Homo sapiens: one gene and its partner. Each later gene encodes a partner of the first gene's protein in a complex. Each region holds a gene or a part of one and is shown on either strand. Other genes may lie near its edges.

Region 1 (7,198 bases):
ATAACCTGCATTTGCAAAAGAATATATGAAGTATTAAGAATCATAAAAGGCCAGGCATGTGGCTCACGCCTGTAATCCCAGCAGTTTGGGAGGCCGAGGAGGGTGGATCACTTGAGGTGAGGAGTTCAAGACCAGCCTGGTCAACATGGTGAAACCCCGTCTCTACTAAAAATACAAAAATTAGCCAGGCATGGTGGCACACGCCTGTAATCCCAGCTACTTGGGAGGCTGAGGCAGGAGAATTGCTTGAACCTGGGAGATGGAGGTTGCAGTGAGCTGAGATCGCACTACTGCAGTCCAGCCTCGGTGACAGAGCCAGACTCTGTCTCAAAAAATAAAATAAAATAAAATAAAAAATCATAAAATTCAAATGATTCAGAAGACAGGATTCTACAATATGATTCACATTATATTCATCTTTCAATAAATCTAGGCTTGCATTGTGACAGCGAACCAAAATGAGTCTCTATTTTATATTATCCTATAATAAGGCTGTGGGAAGTATCCATTCACACTCTTGACACTGATGTGTTTGAGGTAAGAATAAACAACCCTTATTTAAATGGGCTAAAAGGAAAGTAAAGTCTCCCAGGGCCTATCTGGTTCAAGTGCAGTGTGATAGAGGAGGTTTCTCTCTTGACAAGGCAGAACATCTGGGTCTAGATCTTCTACCTTCTGAATGCATTCCAAGAAGCACAGCTCCCTTTTTTGCATTTTATTTTATTTTACTTTATGGTAAATTAATAAATAATTGTATATTTATGGGGTACACTGTAATGCTTTGATTTGTATATACATTGTAAAAAATTGAATCAAGCTAATTAACATATCCATTGTCTCACCAGCTTATCCTTTTTTTGTAGTATGTTAAAAAATCTATTCTTTAAGCAATTTTCAGATATACAATGTTATTTTTAGCTGTAGTCACCATGCAATGCAACAGATCACTAAAATGTATTCATCCATTCTGAGACTTTGTACTCTTTGATCAACATTTTCTATTTCCTTCTCCCTCCCCTTCCCAACCTCTAGAGACGACATTTCTACTCTGTTTATATGAGATTGACTTTTTTAGTTCCACATATAAGTGAGATCATGTGGCATTTATCATTTGGTGCCTGGATTATTTAATTTAACGTAATGTACACCAGTACCACCTCGTCTTGAATGACAGAATTTCCTTCTTTGTAAAGGCTGTGTGGTACTTAATTTTGTATATATACCACATTTCTTTACCTAGTTATCCAGCAATAAACATTTAGGTTGCTTCCATATCTTGGCTACTGTGAATAATGCTGAATTAAAGTAGGACTGCAACTATCCTTTTGACATAGAAATTTAAATTCCTTTGGATATATACCCAGGAGTGGGATTGCTAGATCATATGGTAATTCTATTTTTAGTTTTTTGAGTTTACTATTTTCCAAAATGGCTGTACTAATTTACATTCCCACCAGCACTGTACAGGGTTCTCTTTTCTCCACATCCTCACCCACACTTGTTATCATTCATCTTTTTGATAATGTCAGAATGAGATATCACCTCACACATGTTAGAATGGCTATTATCAAAAATAGCTTAGGTTTGAGGCTGAGTGCTTTATTTCTCTGCATCCCTTGGTATTCCCCATAGACATGACTGGACTTTCTTATTACCATTTCTTTTCAGGCAGGCTCATGCTTTATATCAAGATTCTGAAACCAGAGGAAATTCTCACACCTGTATATTATAGAAGCTTTAAAGCATCCAAGCACCAGGTTTTAAGAATGAAACAGATCAACAAACAATTCTCATGTTCTTTAGATTGCATGTGATCTATGGTCTATTCCTATAGTGAATCTCCACATTTTCCCACAAAGCATAGAGTGGATTAGGTATGAATAATGCTCAATACTTTAGCAAATATACTGGGTACCTACTCTATTACATCCTCTCTTACAAGTGCTATTGTAGAGCAGGAAATAAATAAGTCTCAGCTGTCATGCAGAAAGCAGTCTAGTGGAACAAGACAGAAAATAAACATATAAGCAATAGCTATTTCACAGGCCAGATAAGCACTAAGAAGAAATACAAAGCAGTTGCTAACTACAATAGGATTCAAATTGTGAAAGTGGGAATTGATAGCAGAGATGATTTGGAGAAGAAGATAATCCATTAAGGATGAAATCAGAAGTTAGGCTGTTGGATGCTTCATCCAAATAGTTGTTGGTATTCAAATGGATGAGAAAGTTTTTAAGAAGGAAAGCAAGAGTTTGAATGGAGGGAAAGACTGTCAACCACAGAATAAATTCTTAATAAATAAGAGTGTCCATAAAGGCAGAACATAATGGCTACCATGTAGCCAGGTAGAAAAAGATGATGAAACTGGAGAACATATCTCCAAAGAAAGAGTTTTGGGTTTGTTTGAGTGTGTTTTGGGAGAGTTGTTTGCTTGTCTTTTTATACAGGGTTTTGTCAACTCTGGATGTAGAGACTTTTTTGAGAATTAAAACATCGAGTCCATCCACACTTCTGACACTGACATCTCTGAGGTCACAATAAACAGCTCCCATTTAAACAGACTGAAAGGAAGCTAATGCCCACAGTGGCGTATCGAGTTCAAGTGTAGTGTGATACAGCCAGCTTCTCTCCTGACACAGAAGAGTATGTGGGGTCTAGAGCTCCCACCTACTGAATACATACTTAGAAAGTAGAGTTTAGAAATATGCTTATAAAGTTCTTAAGGCAGAAATGTTGAAAACAGACCCTCCACTATGTAGTTCCTCCTGCTGAGAAACTCAGTGGGGGAGGAAGGATCCTCAGCTCATTATTAGGGGCACGATAATTGCCAAAACTTTTCAGATCCAACCTGGTAATATTACATAACCGTTATATAACCGTAGTGCCAAATATTTGTCCCAAAACAAATATTTGTTCCAAAACAAGAAAATGGCTAGCTAACTCAGAATATAAAACCAACACCATTAGTTTCCCATCTATTTGCCTCTCATTTATGTGATTGGTTTGTACAATATCTTGGGATCAACTGCCTGTTCATTACACATTATAAAAAGCAGTACTTCTTTTTATTTATTTTAAATATCACATGGAAACTTTGAAATATTTGATATTAAGTTCATTAAATTTATATTGTGTTTGAATGTACAGAAAGGTGTGTAGAATTTTACTGGGTGAAAAGGGATATATGTGTCAGACTGCTCTAAGGGAAGGTTTTATGCTCTAGAAAATTCATTTGCATCATCACCAGAGTGTGGAGAAGAGAAGCCTGCAGTCAGTCAATTGTCCATTATAAAGAAATCAAGTGAATGTTTGATGCTACAAAATAATTATTGCTAATTATAGATGTGATCAGGGTATTGAGTTAAAATCTTAAGTTCTTACCATTCAGAGACATATGCTGATATATTTTTGAAGTAAGTGATGTGATGTGTGCATAAAATAGGGTTACAAAATGAAGGTTCTATGGTGTGGCCTTTGGGAAGAAGGTGCAACCCCTCTGGCCTTCACTCCCAAACTACACTGTATTGCCGCAGTTTTCTAAAATAAACATAATTTTTCCTCTGTCCCTCGTGTTTCAAATCACTAGAGTGGGAAACTGATCCAGAGTAAAAGCCAGCTCCAGCTGACTCTTGACTCTCCTAAAAACAGCTACACACATACTCACACAACAACAGGATTACAAACTCTTAATTACAGCAATGTCCAGATTTGAATGCTGCAGGCTGACAATTGCCCCTCTAAGTTCTGCTGGGGCACCTAGGCAAGGGGAGAGAGAATACAACTGGAGGTTAAAGAACCAGAGTTTTCTGTCTTCCTCTCCTCTCCCTCATTTTCACTCTCCCTTCCCCCTCAGCTGCACCGCGCTGCTCCTTTTCCTCTCCTCCTTGGATGTTCCCTAGCCCCTTCATTCCTTCACGCTCTGCAGGCCCTCTCCCCTCTACCCCTCCTCATCAGCCCCCCGCTCCTCTTCCTCCCTCCCTTCCCGGCAGCTGCTGGAGGAGACGCCACAGCTGCTGCTGTTACTGCATCTGCAGCAGGTCTCTGTCAATATCACCCGCCCACGCCCGATCTGGATGCTGAAGTCGCTCACTGGCCTGGAGATTAGGGCGGGGGAGAGAGTGGAGTGGCTGGGAGAGGGGAGGGAGGAGTGGAAAGGAGACAAAAACAGCTTCCAAGCAGCGGGCGCGGCTCCACTGGACATCTGGGTAGGAGGGGTCTCTGGGTCAGTGGCTGGAGAGTCGCCCCAGTGAGTCGGTGTCTAACTGGCCATTTAGTGGGGCCCATTTACTGCAGAGCCACAGCTGGTGAGGACAGACGCCAGCCTAACAGCAGCTTCTGTACAACTAGAGCTCAGAAAACCCGAGAGATCCGTGGAGAAAGAGAAGCCCAGGAGGAGGAAAGGGCTCCAAGGAGCCCTGCTCCTGAAGGGTCCCTCAGGCACTGGTGGAGACCTGTCGCTTCGTAGCAAGTAAGTGCCTTTTTCTTGCTGCTGTGTCCAGTCCCAGAATGGTGATAGCCGCTATCCGCTGCCAGCCTTTCCCATCCACTCCCACCTGCCCCATCCCATACACACCCTTAGGGTCCCCAGCAGGAGGACAGAGATTTGAAATTGTGGACGTGCATTAGGAGAGTTACTTCAAGAGTATACTTCAAGAGCAGCCGTGGTCTGTGGGTGTTTGCATGGCATGTGCCGTCAGTTTTCTAATTCCATCAGGTAAGCTTCTGAAACCAACATTCTCTGTTAGTGTAAAATTCTAGAAACCCTATATGACAATGACTTACATTACATGGTACAATGATAGTATAAAATGGAGGAAAGGTTATGCAGATTGTTGTACACTTCTTCTAAGAATCCTATCTCTTATTCTAAATAACAGAGATTTCAAGATTGATTTTCCCAAAGGAATAGATAGTATAAAAGTAGAGGCATTGATGTGATTGGCAGTGGTGTGCTCAGTTTAGTCAGTTGGGCATTTTGGTATTGACTAGATCAACAGAGATTGTTGTTGTTGTTTTTGCATTGTTTTGCTCTATAAAATGCATCTCTTCTGGAGGTTTTCTTTTAGAAGTGATAGTGTGACTGGTTGTGTTAGCTTCAAAACTTAGAACATTGGTCAAAACAAGACAAATGATGAGTGCATGTGGAATGACACACCGATGGGCCCCTTTCATTAACGAAAATGATGGGTTCCAGTTTGGATATTGGACTGAAAAATATCTTGAAATGGGAAAGAGTTTGGGTGGTGCTTCTTGTGGATACTTTACCCCACTGCTGTTCATTCAGGAGAGCAATTTATGGCAAAGTAGAAGGAAAGTGGGCCCTGTAATAAACAGAATCCTGGGCACCATACCTGCTATGACTAGCCTTAATTAAAGATTCTATAATCCAGCTGCTGTTTTTACAAGTAAGACCTATAAGGAGTAATTTGCTGAGGCTACCTGGCAAATCAGTAATTGAGCGGGAAGTCCAATGAACAAGTCTTTGGGATTTAGAACTACAAAACTTGATTTCAATTTTTGTACAAATTAAGCCAATTATTTAACTTGAGTAAGCTTTATTTTCTTTATTTATAAATGACACTCCAAAAAGTCCTGACAAAAACTAATTGACAGAGATGATATAAAGGGTTTATGAAAGTACCATATGTGTAACTGTTGATTACATAAGGGATTATTCTGTGTTTTTATCTACTTCACTATTCTGATTTTCCTTCTAAGTCTGATTCAATATAAGCATACAGAGGGCTTTGACATGCATCTCTAGAATGCACTAGAGGAAGTGAAATTCAAATCCTTTTCTTGCCACCTGTACAGTTTAAAGCATATTCTAATCTGAAAGCCTTTATCCTCAAAAAAGTGAAAAGTGTGTGCTTTGGCTAGCTTTGCATATTTAAACCTTGTAATATTCTCCAAATATGCTTTACCCTCTTTCTGTTTTTAGTTTTAAAATTGATTTTAGGTCTGTAGTCCTGTTTCCTGGGGATGAAGCCATCACGTATATTGGATATTGCTGAATGTATTTGGCCCGTTACTTAACATAGGAGAAATCAAAATTTAGGCATAAATACTCTAATCTTGACTGCAAAGATTCATTAAAATCTTGCACCTGGGGGATAGGTACTGTGAGTCCCTTCTTTCCCATGGATATGTTTAAAGTAATAGAAGAAAGAACTCAATTTGTACATGGGCTCAGGAAAAGGGGTCATCAGATCCCAGATGGCACACGACCGTTGGACCTGCTGCTGCATATCAGTCTCTACTGGAGTACTGGAGGCAGAGCCAAGCACTTCAAAACTGGGCATTCTGTCTCCGTAGCCTCGTGTGGTAGATGGTTTGGTAGCGGATATACACTCTCACTGATTTTCCCAAAGTAGGATAAATACCTGTCCAAAGCATACTAGAAATAAAAATAACAGTATTTTCCCCAATCCCTTACTCAGGGATTGGGAAATCTGCACTCCAGCCCTAGATCTCATTGGGTTGAGATACGTGTCACAACTGGGGTATTCAGAGATTGACTCACCATCTACCTACTGCCTTAGACTCCCTCCTGAAAGCTTATGGTGGAGGCATTGGGTAAAAGGGACATTCTTGATTTCTGGGAGTCTGATCCCATTATTTCCACTAACCATTTTCAGTATTTGTCAGTGTGAGAAGAACATCTATAACCTCTGCCCACCCCCACCCCCACTCCAGATATCAGCAATGCACAGTCACCCATTATCACATGAGAAAATCTTGTACAAACAGATGTCACTTTTCTTTTCCTGCGTTGGTTCCTTCTCTTCTGTTAGTGAGGACTAACCAACCAGACAAGTGAGGTCTCATTGCAGCAACATTGAAAGAAGGAGCCTTTGAAGTTAAAGATAAGATTTCATCTGAGGGCTTCAGAGGTTATTTTTGAGTTGGTGCATATCTCTTGACCCAGCTAAGATTATTATTTTACATTCATTTGTTCAATTATTGTTTATTACAAATGAGGCGCCATCTTCTTATATTCCATCCTGAAATTCCTAGCAAACAGATATCCCTGTTGTCTCTGCAGTATTTATAATTGGATTGACTCAGCCTGGTGCTGGACAAGGATAACCAGCTCAATGGACGGCTCTGATGATGGTGTGGGTCAGGTGCCACACTGACTGCCTAGACATCAAAGAGCTTGATAGAAATGCAGAAGCTGGGGCCCCACTCATGGAAA
Region 2 (7,444 bases), on another chromosome or scaffold:
TCCACTGCTCCTGTCTCTAATTCCTCCCCAGTAGTCTCAGTGAATGTGTTTCATTCCACAAGAAAACTAACATCTCCCTGAATAGCTCCCATTCAATTCTTTCTTCAGCAGAGTCATGTCATTCCCTCCACCTCAAGATCCCTGAATATCTAGGCTCTGTACTCCATCCTCTTCCTCAATCTCTGAGCATAATTAGCTAAAGTCCCCTCAAAGGAGAAGTGTCCTTAAGTCTAAAGACCCTCTTTTCCCTGGCCTGCCATGGCATTGCACCTTGCTGGGTCTCTTCCTATTTCTCTGACTCTTGGTTTTCTGTTCCCCTATTGATTCTGGCCTCAGCTCTTCACTGTTTCCACACTATTCTCACTCCCTTGTGTATTCATTCACTTGTGTCCTCTGTGAAGAGGACCTAATATCTGCTTGGCACTGATCTAGGTGCAGGACGGCAGCAGTAGACAGAACAAACAAGGCTGCTATCTATCACCAAGGAGAACCAGCCTGATGGGAGGAACAGAAAATAAGCAAGTACATATATTAAAAATAAGATAATTTTGGATAGTGAGAGAAGATATGAAGAACAAGAAACAGGGTGATGAGATAGAGAGTAGCTTCAGGTGAGGAAGGTAGCAGGAAACAAGCTTAGAGTGACCAGGGAATGTCACTCTAGGGTGAAGTCATTTGAGGCAAGACCAAAATGACAAGAAACCAGCCATAGAATGAAGAATGTTCCAGGAAGAGGGGACATCAAATGCTAAGGCTATAATAATAATGATGGGAAATATTAATAGTGGGGAAGAGTTTGATAACTATGAGGTACATTTCTTTAAAATTAAGTGTAATTGGAACATGGTGGACAAGACAGAGAGTGGTAGAAATGAGTGTGGAGAGATAGCCAGGGCACAAGGCCAACATTAGGCCATGGTGACAAGTCTAGATTTTATTTCAGTGTAGTGAGATGCCATGGAAGGGCTTTAAGCAAGAGAAGTTCCCATCTTTTAGAATACAAAGACTGTTCTGTCTACTCTTTGGAGAATAGAGCATATGGTTTCACCCATTAACTGTGAAGGGAGAATGATTATTAAATTGGGAGGCCAAGTCAACAACAATGAGAAAGGATTGAAGCCAAAATGGCAGAAAAGAGGAAGGGAGAGCTTAATTTAAATGATTTTAAAACTCTCAGAACAAGGCCAAGAGTACTTCAGGGAACTTAAGGTACTTGCAAAAGTGACTGAGAGTGACAGCCAAAAATCAAGGGAAACAGCAGGAGAATGAAAAGACTAAATGCTCCTATTTTCAATACAGGAGAGGGAAGAAGTGGTATATGAAAAATAGAGGTGAAATCCTGACAGTGACTATTTACAATGGGGTTGATAAACAATTAGAAAACAACATTATGAATATTAGCAATTCACATGAATAGACATAAGAAAAATTTTGTAAAGCTGAGCCAATTCCTGCTGTGGTAGTTGATAAAATTATCAGACTGAAAATATTTCAGTCTGTCTGTGTATTTCAGTCTTGGTAAGGCTTTCAATAAAGTCATAGAACCTCAAAGACGATAGGAACTTTAACATAATCTATTCCAAATTTCTAACCTTTACAGGTTTTCCTTCCTAAACATCCCAGCAGTTGTTTGGATAACAACTGCTTGGATGTAACGAAAGGTAATTTGTCCTACTTTGGAAAGGTTTGAAATGTATTGCTGAAAATCTGTTTTTGTGTTAGTGTAAGCCATTGATCCTATTTCTTTCCTGTGGATGACTAGATGTCTAATTCCTCTCACAGATTCCTTTTATTCTAAATTTTCAGAATGTCTCATGCTGTACATATAAAAAATAGGGAGCTATGTTTGGGTTTTATGATTGAGCAACTGTTCTAAAGAATTTTAATTAGGCCAGGTGCAGTGGCTCATGCCTGTAATCCCAGTGCTTTGGGAGGCCAAGGCGGGCAGATCACCTGAGGTCAGGAGTTTGAGATCAGCCTGGCCAACACGGTGAAACCCCCTCTCTACTAAAAATTCAAAAATTAGCTGGGTGTGGTAGTGGGCACCTGTAATCCCAGCTACTTGGGAGGCTGAGGCGGAATGATTGCTTGAACCTGGGAGGTGGAGGTTTCAGCGAGCCGAGGTCACACTACTGCACTCCAGCGTGGGCAACAAGAGTGAAACTCCGTCTCAAAAAACAAACAAACAAACAAAAATGTTAATTAGTAGCTCATTGTCAAGGTAGAATGAGGTCTTTAGAAGCAGGCCATAGGACTATCTCTTCTTTTTTTCTATTGGTTCTTTTTTTAAATATCCATGTGTGGATCATGTGATTGTCAAGCCTAGAGATGAAACAAGGGTAAAGAAGAGAGATATATTGGGTGATTGAATCTGAATTCAATAAAAGTATTAACACAGTGTGATAACTGGTTGAAACTAATAAATTTTAACAGCAATAAGTGCAAAGTTTCATAATAAAATTTCCAAAATTGCCTGTACAAGACACAATGACTCTGCAACAAGTCAAGTGAAGAATACTCAGGGATTTTAATTGAACATAAGCTGATTATGACTAAGATGTGGCTGTAAATGTATTTAACTAGTTATATCCTTCAAAGCAAATGTAGCCATAATTCCACTGGATTTATGCTGGTCAGACCACACAGGGACCATCAGTTCCTGTTCTGGACGTCACTTGGAGAATCATGCTGAGAAACTGAAAGTCCTTCTGAAAAAGCAGCCAGGGTGGTACAGGATTGGAAACTACTAGAAAATACATTGGAAGAAACTAAGGAAGAGTAGCCACAAACAAAAATGTCTTAGGGCGGATGTGAGGAAGCATAGCTCTTTTAAAGAGAAAACAGCATTAGGGCCACTTAATGGAGTTTGGAGGGGGAGGAGGAGTGTACGGAATTCAACTGAACATAAAGAACTTCCTTAAGCATCAGAAGAGGTGAACTTGTGATGTAGAAAGTTCTCATCACTAAAAAGATCAAGGCCAGGCGCGGTGGCTCATGCCTGTAATCCCAGCACTTTGGGAGGCCGAGGCGGGTGGATCTCCTGAGGTTGTGAGTTTGAGACCATCCTGACCAACATGGAGAAACCCCATCTCTACTAAAAATACAAAATTAGCCGGGTGTAGCAGCGTATGCCTGTAATCCCAGCTACTCAGGAGGCTGAGACAGGAGAATCACTTGAACCCGGGGGACGGAGGTTGCGGTGAGCCAAGATCGCGCCATTGCACTCCAGCCTGGGCAAGAAGAGCAAAACCCCGTCTCAATAAATAAATAAATAAATAAATAAATAAATAAATAAATAAAATCAAGTCCATTCGTCCGAAATGTTCTTGGGGGAAGTCACAAATTGGAAAAGCGGTTGAATTAGGTCAACTTTAACTTCCCATCCAAATTTAACACAGTATACATGCTTCAAGGCCTAGTCCTCCAAACAGCACAGAGTTTATGGCCTGGTGGCTCCCTGCCCAGGAAGATCCGACTGGGGACATTCTGTTACTCTGTGAGATGTCAGGAGGGAGCATTTCCTGCTTCTGGTCCACTCACCGTCAGCTGTTGCTCTGTTATTCCATTTTGGAATATCAGCGTTAAGCTTCCCCTTTTGGAAAGAGCAGAAGAGGAGAAAAAGGAAGCTGAAGAAGGGCTCTTGGATTACTCTTTTACTTCAGTTCCAGGCGTTCCTAATCTGTTATGTCAATTTGAGTTTATAGTTGAATGTAAAGTTTCAGGTTTCCCTTCCAGAGATGGGGCGGGGGCACTCAAACAGCTGCTAGGACTAGGGAGTGGCTAATAGTTGGAAGACGCCAAACACAATCTATCTGCTTTATTAAAAAGGAGTAATTAAAGGAAAAGGGAGAACTGCAAAGAACCTGGGGAAGGGAAGAGGAGTCCTCTTGGGCCCCCCTCCCCTTGCGCTGACATTTGGATCACCTCACTGAGTGATGAGGTGAAGACAGGAACAGGTGCGCCTCATCCCTACCCCATTTGCCCTAAACAGGGATTATCTTGCTGAGTTTGCTGTGTCCGGGGCCAATTAATCAAGGCTAGACAAAGGATAGACAGCGAGAACTGGAAGGCATGGGGTCTGGGAGGCGAAGCCAGGAACCGCGTACGGCGCGCCTTGCAGATGACATCATTGCCTGAAAGAGCTCTGGCCCTTCTCTTCCCGGAGCTACACCCGGCAAGTCCGTGCGGGAGCGGAGTGGGTTTGCCTGGAGGGCGTGAGCCGAGGGCGGCGGTGCGCCCGAGCTCGGGGGAGGTGCGGAGGCGCGAGAGGGAGACCTGGAGAGACCAGCGAGCGCGCGAGCAAAGATATCCCGGCTGGAAGTGTCTGCGCCGCTCCCGGCTCCGCCCCCGCTCGGCGCGGCGCTGGGCCTGGGAGGGGCACGCCCATCAGGGGGTGGGGAGTGTGCACTAGGGGGAGGGTCCGGGGCGGTGGTGGTGGCGGAGAGCCGCCTGCGCATGTCAGGGCTGACAGCACACACGGCCTGGGGGCCTAGAGAAGGGTTGCTGATCACCTGCCACCCAGGGTCGGGGCCCCGCACCATCCGGGGGCGAGCTCCCGGGAAGGGGCTCCGCCTCTACACCCACCCCCCAACCTCTGACATCGCCGGCCGAACGGGAGCTGCCGCTTCCTTCCCGGCCCCGCTGCACCTCCCCAGGGAGCCGAGGGCGGGCGTGGACGGGACCGACGTGGAACGCATTCTGTAGCCCAGACGGGCGGCCCCGGCGGCTTCGGGAGTGGGGTCACGCCCAGCTGGAGAAGCAGTTAGGGCGGACGAAGCAGGAGCCGCGGGGCTGGGAGGATTCCAGTCGGAACGCAACCGATCCTGGGGAGGCGAGAGGTGAATCAACCTGGACCCTTCCACAGCCTGGCTGCTAGGCCAGCAGTGCGACTCCCTTCCGAGCTGAGCTTACCCTGGGCGCAAACGAGCGAGGCAGGGGCGCGAGTGGAAGCTGGAGTTCCGGGGTGGGCGGGGAGGCGACTGTCCGTGGTGCTGAGCGCCGGCGAGAGCGGGCGCGGAGCGGCTGATCGGCTCCCTCGAACTGGGGAGGTCCAGTGGGGTCGCTTAGGGCCCAAAGCCCCCACCCGGCTCCAAAAGCTCCCAGGGCCTCCCCAGGCACCGGTGCTCGGCCCTTCCTTCGGTCAGAAAGTCGCCCCCTGGGGGCAGTTCGTCCCAAAGGGTTTCCTCGAAAGAATCTGAGAGGGCGCAGTCCTTGACCGAGGGAATCTCTCTGTGTAGCCTTGGAAGCCGCCAGCCCCAGAAGATGCCTGCCTTCAATAGATTGTTTCCCCTGGCTTCTCTCGTGCTTATCTACTGGGGTAAGTACCAGCACCTCGCCATGCCGGATGCAGGTAACAGTAACAATGCTAACAATAATAACACATTGATGTCGTTGGTGACAGAAAAGAGCTCTGGCTGGCTTGCCTCTGTGCGTATCTGCCAGACATGGAGATGGCAGGGGTTCCATGAGAGCTGGGATTTTGAGATGGGAAAGGCGCCTCCCCACCGCCCTTCCCCGCTATTCTCCAACCTCCTTTGGTGGTTCTTCCGCCCTTCCTCCAGTTTCCTGATCATTCCAAAGTATTTTTTCCCTTTCCCTTTGCTGAAAGGAAATGCAGTCACGTTCACGAATAAAAACCTCCTGTGTGGTTACATTTTATTTCTCATCAAGGAGTCTATACTCCTGGAAAGCTTACTGGGTCTTCAAATTCGTTTCTGTATATTAAAAAAAAAAAAAAACCATAAAAGCTGGATGCATGAATTTTGAGAGTGAAAATACTTTAGTTGCTCATCATCTTCTTAATTTTAACAAGGAATGGGAAGAAAACAGCCTTCAGCCATTTACTGCTATATATTAAATAAATAGGCAACTGTGAAATGCATCTTTCTTTTTCTTCTTCTTCTTTTTTTTTTGGTTTGTTTGTTTGTTGCATGAACCTGTGGAACTAAGATGCTTTGGTGTTAGGGGAGGAGAGCTGGGTTTTTGCCTTCAAAGGTGAATAGATTCTTGCTTGTCAGCTGTGAGAAACTGAGGTGACCTTCCCCCTCCAAATAAGGGAATCTTACACTTGGAACAGTAAAGGCTGAAGAGAGTGTCAGAGACGGTCTTGGAGTGCCTGAATGTGTGTAAAGGGGATTGATCTATGTGATAATGTCTGATTGTGTGATTGAGACAATGTTTTACTGTATGTAAATATATTTCAGTGTCTGGATGTGTGCACTAGCATGTGTGTGAGCATGTTGGCATAGACATCTGAATGCATGGGTGAGTGTAGTAGTATGTGTATGGCAGGGGTGGGGGTGGTAGTTCTGGGCATGTCTGCCTTGGTGTCTATGATTAGATCCTCAGATAAAATATAGGTTCTCTTCAGCAGACAGATTGCTTTACATGATCTTAGCTACCTTTCTCCGTGCAAAAATCAATACACAGGGTAATTGGACACAATTGTACCCACCTGCCTCCCTGAAACGAGGCATGTGAGCTTATGTTCCCATGGTTGGCATGAAACTCATCCTGCCTATACGGTGGCAGACATGCTGATGGGAGCTGCCTCTTTGCTTTAGTATTACTTTTTCAAGCCTCCAGGACTAACTCTAGCTGCCAGCATTATCTGGATTTTGCATGTGACCAGAGGCAGAGCCAAGCTTCCTGTCAAAATGCCTGATGAGACGGACTAGGAAGGTTGAGGAGGGAGGTAATGTCAGCCCCAAAGGCGGACTCATCACCAGCCATCCCCAGTAGAGTAGACCAGACCTGGAGATGGAGCAGCTATAATATGTTGCCAATGATCTCACCTGCCTTGAAGATTAAGGCTGAAATTTTCTCAGGGGAGGCTAAGGCTGAGGACACGAGGCTTAGAAGATGTTAGCCTGGCCAGATAAAAAGAGCGTCGGTAAAGCTGAAGTTGTGGATAAGGGTTGGAGTGAGACTCTGCAGAGACTTTCTTCCTGAACTCTAATCTAAGATTTTGAGATCCCTGCCTGAATTCCAGTGGAGGGAGAGAACATGCTATCATCCAAGAATCTTTTAACTAGAACTTGTGCAACCTGCATTGGAGTCTCAGCTTTGCCACTAGCTTACTATATAACAACCTTAAAGTGCTATCTGGTTCCTTCTGTGTAATGTTTGGAAGTTGGCACGGGTGATATCTAACATCCTTTTCAGCTCCACAGATGAATGGTAGAGAAATCTTTGAAGAATATTGCTAGAATTGACAGAGTGCCCATCCCCTCCCCGACCCCAAAAAACTTTGGAAGAAGTGTACACAGTATGCCCATCTTTGCCCATTCTCAGTTTCTTTGCAAACTGAGTGTTGTCTCACCAAACTGAAAAGCTGTGGAAGGGAAAGAGAAGTGGTTCAGGACACTTGGTTGTTAACTGTAAGAAAAACAGCTTCCCTTCGCCAGGCGCAGTGGCTCACGCCTGTAATCCCAACAATTTGGGA

The links.
Region 2: the proteins of SCN7A (region 1) and SCN3B are in contact, whole or in part, in a cryo-EM structure (PDB 7TJ9), measured with the Homo sapiens proteins. Residues at the interface, in NP_002967.2 of Homo sapiens: Arg269, Glu293, Tyr296, Leu298, Glu299, Leu305, Gln315, Cys316, Pro317, Glu318, Gly319, Tyr320, Asn922, Ile923, Thr926, Cys927, Lys929, Ile930, Phe939, Ile956, Tyr957, Asp959, Gln960, Ile966, Tyr970, Met973, Ile974, Tyr977, Ile978, Leu981; in NP_001035241.1 of Homo sapiens: Val25, Cys26, Val27, Glu28, Val29, Arg44, Ile46, Lys50, Arg51, Glu52, Glu53, Val54, Asn95, Gly96, Ser97, Asp99, Gln101, Asp102, Phe126, Phe128, Ala130, His131, Pro133, Val135, Thr154, Ser155, Ser158, Glu159, Met162, Leu165.

What each region holds. Positions count from the first base shown.
Region 1 is NC_000002.12:166,491,238-166,498,435, reverse strand, and holds the start of SCN7A (sodium channel protein type 7 subunit alpha), read left to right. Parts: upstream 1-4,186; 5' UTR 4,187-4,468; intron 4,469-4,579; exon of another isoform or gene 4,580-4,714; intron 4,715-7,198. UniProt on the Homo sapiens protein: Sodium leak channel functioning as an osmosensor regulating sodium ion levels in various tissues and organs. While most sodium channels are voltage-gated, SCN7A is not and lets sodium flow through membrane along its concentration gradient.
Region 2 is NC_000011.10:123,651,620-123,659,063, reverse strand, and holds the start of SCN3B (sodium channel regulatory subunit beta-3 precursor), read left to right. Parts: upstream 1-4,439; 5' UTR 4,440-4,838; exon of another isoform or gene 4,839-5,237; 5' UTR 5,238-5,262; coding exon 5,263-5,317; exon of another isoform or gene 5,318-5,379; intron 5,380-7,444. UniProt on the Homo sapiens protein: Regulatory subunit of multiple voltage-gated sodium (Nav) channels directly mediating the depolarization of excitable membranes.